2 separate regions of the Homo sapiens genome follow, and region 2 is linked to region 1. The links come from fine-mapping of genetic effects on gene expression. A gene starts in region 1. The other region holds a variant in brackets. All regions are shown on one strand. Distances are from middle to middle. Region 1 holds the start of DMKN (dermokine). Region 2 has its middle 7.3 kb from the start of KRTDAP.

Region 1 (2,905 bases):
GGTAAGAAGTGTTGGATGTTATAAGCTGGGGTGCGGATATTGGGGTGGAGAGAAGAGAGAGACTGACTGAGAGACATTGAGAAAGGCTGATGGAAACTGGCCCCTCCTAACTGGGCGATGAACCCCAGTGATACGAAACAGTGGGAGGCCCTGTGGCCCCTGGGAATAGAGAAGCAGCCACACTTGCTGGGCAGGGGTGAGGCGGGGGGAGGCTCCCAGGTTCTGTATCCCGAGCTGGGACTGGGGAGAGGGCCGTGGCTCTCACGGATGGCTCCTGACCTTGCGCTACCCTCTTCTCGCTTGCCATTGCTGCCCTGGCCCCTGGCCTGGGGGATGGGTGGGGTGAGCTGGCCCAGTCCCGCCCCTCATAGGCGCTTATACTCACACGTGCCCCTCTAGGGCTGCGTAAACAGGATGGGTGCCTGGGTCAGCGGCTCCCTCCCTTGGCCTTCCCTCCCACTCGTTCCCTGGGGGTGGCTGGCGCGCCTGGCTGCCCTGCTCCGCGCCCAGCTTTCTCAGCCGGGAGCAGCCTGAACGCTGAGACACCCTGCTGACCACTCAAAGGGCTATGGCCACCTCCTTCCCCGACACCGAGGGTCCCCCCGGGGGCTCTCCCCAGAATCTCAGAAACTGACACGCAGCCCCGTGTTTGCCAGTCTCTCTCTGTGGGCTGGAAGGTGTGGAGGAACAAGAAGGCAGTCACCTGTAGGTGGCAATGCGGGAGGGGAGAGGGAGAGGAGAGGCTGAGGTGCTGAAACCGAGAAAGGCCAGGCCGAGGACGGGCAATGCCTGTCACTCTGGAGCCCCTGAGCCAGGCTGGCTGAGCCTGGGTGGGTCCTGTCCCCTGGGGCTTCCCTGTCCTTACTCCTTTGGTGGGGTCCTGCCAGTAACTCCTCTCTTCTAAGTCTGCCCCCACCCCACCGCCTCCAGGAGCCAACGACAACCTGTCTCCTTAGATGCCCCTGCCCCCACCCAGCTCCCCGAATGCCTGGGGTTGGGAAATGGGAGCACTTTTGCATCACCTCATCCATTTCTCCCTCCCTCCCTGATGCGGCTCACTCTCTGTTTCGACAGAGACTCTCAGACTCACAATAACAGCTGATTACCCTATTGGTGGCTGGGCCCTGAGTCACTGCGGGGAGGGACCTCAGGTTGCCCAGCCCTGTCACCTTCTCCCAACCTAGAGTATAAGGAGTAGTGACAGGGAGGTGGACTCTGAGAAGCCCAGGCAGTTGAGGACAGGAGAGAGAAGGCTGCAGACCCAGAGGGAGGGAGGACAGGGAGTCGGAAGGAGGAGGACAGAGGAGGGCACAGAGACGCAGAGCAAGGGCGGCAAGGAGGAGACCCTGGTGGGAGGAAGACACTCTGGAGAGAGAGGGGGCTGGGCAGAGATGAAGTTCCAGGGGCCCCTGGCCTGCCTCCTGCTGGCCCTCTGCCTGGGCAGTGGGGAGGCTGGCCCCCTGCAGAGCGGAGAGGAAAGCACTGGGACAAATATTGGGGAGGCCCTTGGACATGGCCTGGGAGACGCCCTGAGCGAAGGGGTGGGAAAGGCCATTGGCAAAGAGGCCGGAGGGGCAGCTGGCTCTAAAGTCAGTGAGGCCCTTGGCCAAGGGACCAGAGAAGCAGTTGGCACTGGAGTCAGGCAGGTTCCAGGCTTTGGCGTAGCAGATGCTTTGGGCAACAGGGTCGGGGAAGCAGCCCATGCTCTGGGAAACACTGGGCACGAGATTGGCAGACAGGCAGAAGATGTCATTCGACACGGAGCAGATGCTGTCCGCGGCTCCTGGCAGGGGGTGCCTGGCCACAATGGTGCTTGGGTGAGTGGCTGTGGGGCTGCATGTGGAAATGGGAGGCTGTGGGCTGCTGGGCTGAGATTCTTGGGAAACGGTTGAAAGGATGGATGGATCTCTTACTTGCAGGCTTCTGGGGCAGCTTCCTTCTATGTTCTGCCCCCCTCCTATGCCACCCTGGAGTCCCTCTGCCTGTCTCTCTCCTGGTCTCTTTATGATTTGCCCTGGCTCTTCTCTACCAGGGTCAGAGATGGTCCCACTAAGTGCAGGTATGTTGTTCTTGCAGGAAACTTCTGGAGGCCATGGCATCTTTGGCTCTCAAGGTGGCCTTGGAGGCCAGGGCCAGGGCAATCCTGGAGGTCTGGGGACTCCGTGGGTCCACGGATACCCCGGAAACTCAGCAGGCAGCTTTGGAATGAATCCTCAGGGAGCTCCCTGGGGTCAAGGAGGCAATGGAGGGCCACCAAACTTTGGGACCAACACTCAGGTAAAGTCACCCCCAGACCTGCTACCTGCCACCTCCCTCCCTCCAAGCCCACATGCTCCGCGTGCCTCCCTGGTCCCTCTGGATCCTACTCTCAGTCTCACCCTCTCTGCAGGGAGCTGTGGCCCAGCCTGGCTATGGTTCAGTGAGAGCCAGCAACCAGAATGAAGGGGTAAGAGGAAGGGGCTGGGAACAAATGAAGAAGCCACTGGGTGCAGGCTACAGAGAGCTGGGGAAAGACAAAGAGGAAAGCAAGATGGGGGAGTGGAGGGATTGGGGTGAGAGGAAGAGATGGGGCTGGGCGAGGTGGCTCACACCTGTAATCCCAGCACTTTGGGAGGCCAAGGCACGTGGATCACCTGAGGTCAGGAGTTCAAGACCAGCCTGGTCAACATGGTGAAACCCTGTCTTCACTAAAAATACAAAAATCAGCCGGTCATAGTGGCATGCGCCTGTAATTGCAGCCACTTGGGAGGCGGAGGCAGGAGAATCACTTGAACCTGGGAGATGGAGGTTGCAGTGAGCCGAGATCGCATCACTGCACTCCAGCCTGAGCAACAGAGTGAGACCCTGTCTCAAAAAAAAAAAAAAAAAAAAAAGGAGGAAGAGACGGGCCTGGGCCTGGGGAGGA
Region 2 (2,905 bases), 30 kb after region 1:
CATAGGAGATAAGGGGGGACGGTGTGTGACAGAAGCCACTTCTATATCATGTTTCATTTCTTCTTTAAATATGTACATTTTATGCACACCTATGCATGTTGTATTTCACAATAACATATTATTAAAGCCAGAGAACACCAGATCAATTTGCAAGTGCTGACAGAATACACAGTCAAGAAACAATTGGAGTCTAGAGAGACTGCAATCTGAACCAAAAAGAAAAAGACAAAGTGAAGTGTAGACAAGCTGTGCACATGAGTGACAGATGTATACTAGCTAGATCATGTGAAATTGACAAAATGCACAAACATGGGTCAGGCCATTCAGAGGATTCAAAGAATGGAAGACATAGCACCTGTTCTCCCTGGGGATGACCTGTACATTTCCCATCAGGTAGAGGAGATAACTCAACACTGGAGACTTGAATCTGCATAAGCAAATCTTATTAAATAACCTTTATTTAATAAAAGGCAGGAAGTAGTCACTCTTCATTTTATACTTTATAAAAACAATAACAAATGCATTTTTTTTTTTTGAGACGGAGTTTCACTCTGTTGCTCAGGCTGGAGTGCAGTGGTGCAATCTTGGCTCACCACAACCTCTGCTTCCCAGGTTCAAACGATTCTCCTGCCTCAGCCTCCTGAGAAGATGGAATTACATCTTCTACATGGGTGCCCGCCACCATGTCCGGCTAATTTTTGTATTTTTAGTAGAGATGGGGTTTTGCCACGTCAGCCAGGCTGGTCTTGAACTCCTGACTTCAGGTGATCCGCCTGCACTGGACTCCCAAAGTGCAGGGATTACAGGTGTGAACCACCATGCCTGGCCAACAAATGAATCTTGTGTGGATACTATACCATCTGTTCAACAGGATGTAGAGATATACACTGAGCTATGAAACAATCTCCAAGATAGAGTAAAATGAAAAAAAGAAAGTGGCAGATCATTATGCTGCCATGTGGTTAAAATAAAGATATGGTACAAATATATGCTATTATCTGCATATTATCTGCTATTATCTGGAATAAAACTTGAGAAGTAACAGTGATAACTTTTGAAAAGTTAGATACTTTCACTGTGTACCCTTTTGGATTTTATGAACAAAAATGTTTTACCATGTGCAAATTACATATTCAAAAGAATAAATTAAAATCAAAACTTTCTAGTAAAGCAAACAAACACCAAAAAAACGCTTTGCACTGTAAAGTGGTAGGGCCTAGTCCATGCAGTGACCCAGAGTAGGTGCCTCTTAACTGAATGAATGAAACTGATTTCTCACATTTACCACA[C/T]CCTTTTGCTACTCAGAGTGTGGTCCCCGAGCCAGCGGCATCAGCATCACTTGGTGCTTGCTTGCTAGAAATGCAGAAGCTCTGCTCACCCAGAGCTAATGCATCAGAATTTTAACAAGACCCCTGCCCCTGGATGATTCACATGTGGAATAACGTTTGAGAAGCACGGCCTTGGGCATGATGTTGAGTGCTATGCAGAAGGCCTTCAAGGAGTTATGATCCAGTTGATACTTACGATAAAGGAAGCATCCAGGGAGAAGGCACTAGATACCTTAGAACGATATGTTTAAATCTGACAGAAGGGAGGAGATAGTTTTGCACCAGGGTAAGAAAACTGGGGAAAGTAACTTTGAATTTGGCATTCATAAATGAACTTAAAAAAAAAAAAAGTCCCTGTCATACTCAGCCAGGACATAAAGGGACTAAAAACCAAAGCCAAACTAAGTGATTACTTTGGGAGGCTTCTGGGAATCAACTCATTTAAAAAACTGGTAAATAAAGGAAATGAATCAAGGATTCATCCTTACTTTCCTCTATGAACTATATACTTCAGGGTAAACAGTTTCTCTCTCTCTCTCTTTTTTTTTTTTTTTTTTTTTTGAGACAGCGTCTTGCTCTTTCACCGAGGCTGGAGTGCAGTGGCATGATCTTGGCTGGAGGCAGCCTTCACCTCCCTGGCTCAAGCAATCCTCCTGCCTCAGCCTCCTGAGTAGTTGGAACTACAGGCACAAGCCACCACACCTGGTATATTTTTAAATTTTTTGTAGGATGGGTGTCTTGCTATGTTGCCCAGGGTGGTCTTCAACTCCTGACCTCAAGTGATCCTCTGGCCTTGGCCTCCCAAAGTGTTGAAATTACAGGCATGCGCCACCATGCCCAGCTGGCACAATTTTTCTTTATACGAGAATTTGAAACTAATAAATGCAAAAGAAATAATAGAATATTTTCGTTTTTCAAAATTTAATAAAATAATGAATGTAGGCTAGCATCTGTAGGGAAGGAAAAAAACATTTTTTTCTACTGTCTTAGGTTCAGTGGCTGTGGCATGCTAATTACATTAACAAAAGAGGCCAGGCACAGTGGCTCATGCCTGTAATCCTAGCACTTTGGGAGGCCGAGGCAGGTGGATCACCTGAGGTCAAGAGTTCGAGACCAGCCAGACCAATATGGTGAAACGCCATCTCTACTGAAAATACAAAAATTAGCTGGGCATGGTGGCGCATGCCTGTAGTCCCAGCTACTCAGGAGGCTGAGACAGGAGAATTGCTTGAACCTGGGAGGCAGAGGTAGCAGTAAGCCGAGATCACACAACTGTACTCCAGCCTGGGCGACAGAGTGAGACTCCATCTTAAAAAAAAAAATTAACAAAAGATAGATTAGCAGGAGAAAAGGCTTATTATGCATGCATCCAGGAGCTTCACAGAAAAGAAGTGAAAACCTAAAGAAGTGGCCAGGCTTGAGGCTCATATACCGTTTTAACAAAGGGTGATAAATCGTGGAAAAGTAAGCTGGGCATGGTGGCTCATGCCTGTAATCCCAGCACTTTGGGAGGCTGAGGAAAGCGGATCACTTGAGGTCAGGAGTTCGAGACCAGCCTGGCCAACATGGTGAAACCC

The links. PIP is the estimated chance that this variant, and not a neighbour inherited with it, causes the effect.
Region 2: its variant is fine-mapped to the expression of DMKN in whole blood (TOPMed, PIP above 0.99). The same link has a PIP of 0.9 or more in blood mononuclear cells.

What each region holds. Positions count from the first base shown.
Region 1 is chr19:35,511,962-35,514,866 of GRCh38, reverse strand. It overlaps DMKN (dermokine), which reads left to right and starts at 1,218. Exons shown (of 16, transcript NM_033317.5): 1 at 1,218-1,817; 2 at 2,077-2,277; 3 at 2,390-2,446. The coding sequence starts at 1,392.
Region 2 is chr19:35,481,685-35,484,589 of GRCh38, reverse strand. No RefSeq gene overlaps it. Among named protein-coding and RNA genes, the nearest start is that of KRTDAP, 7.3 kb to the left of the region's middle. The variant C/T (reference allele first, on the strand shown) is at 1,290.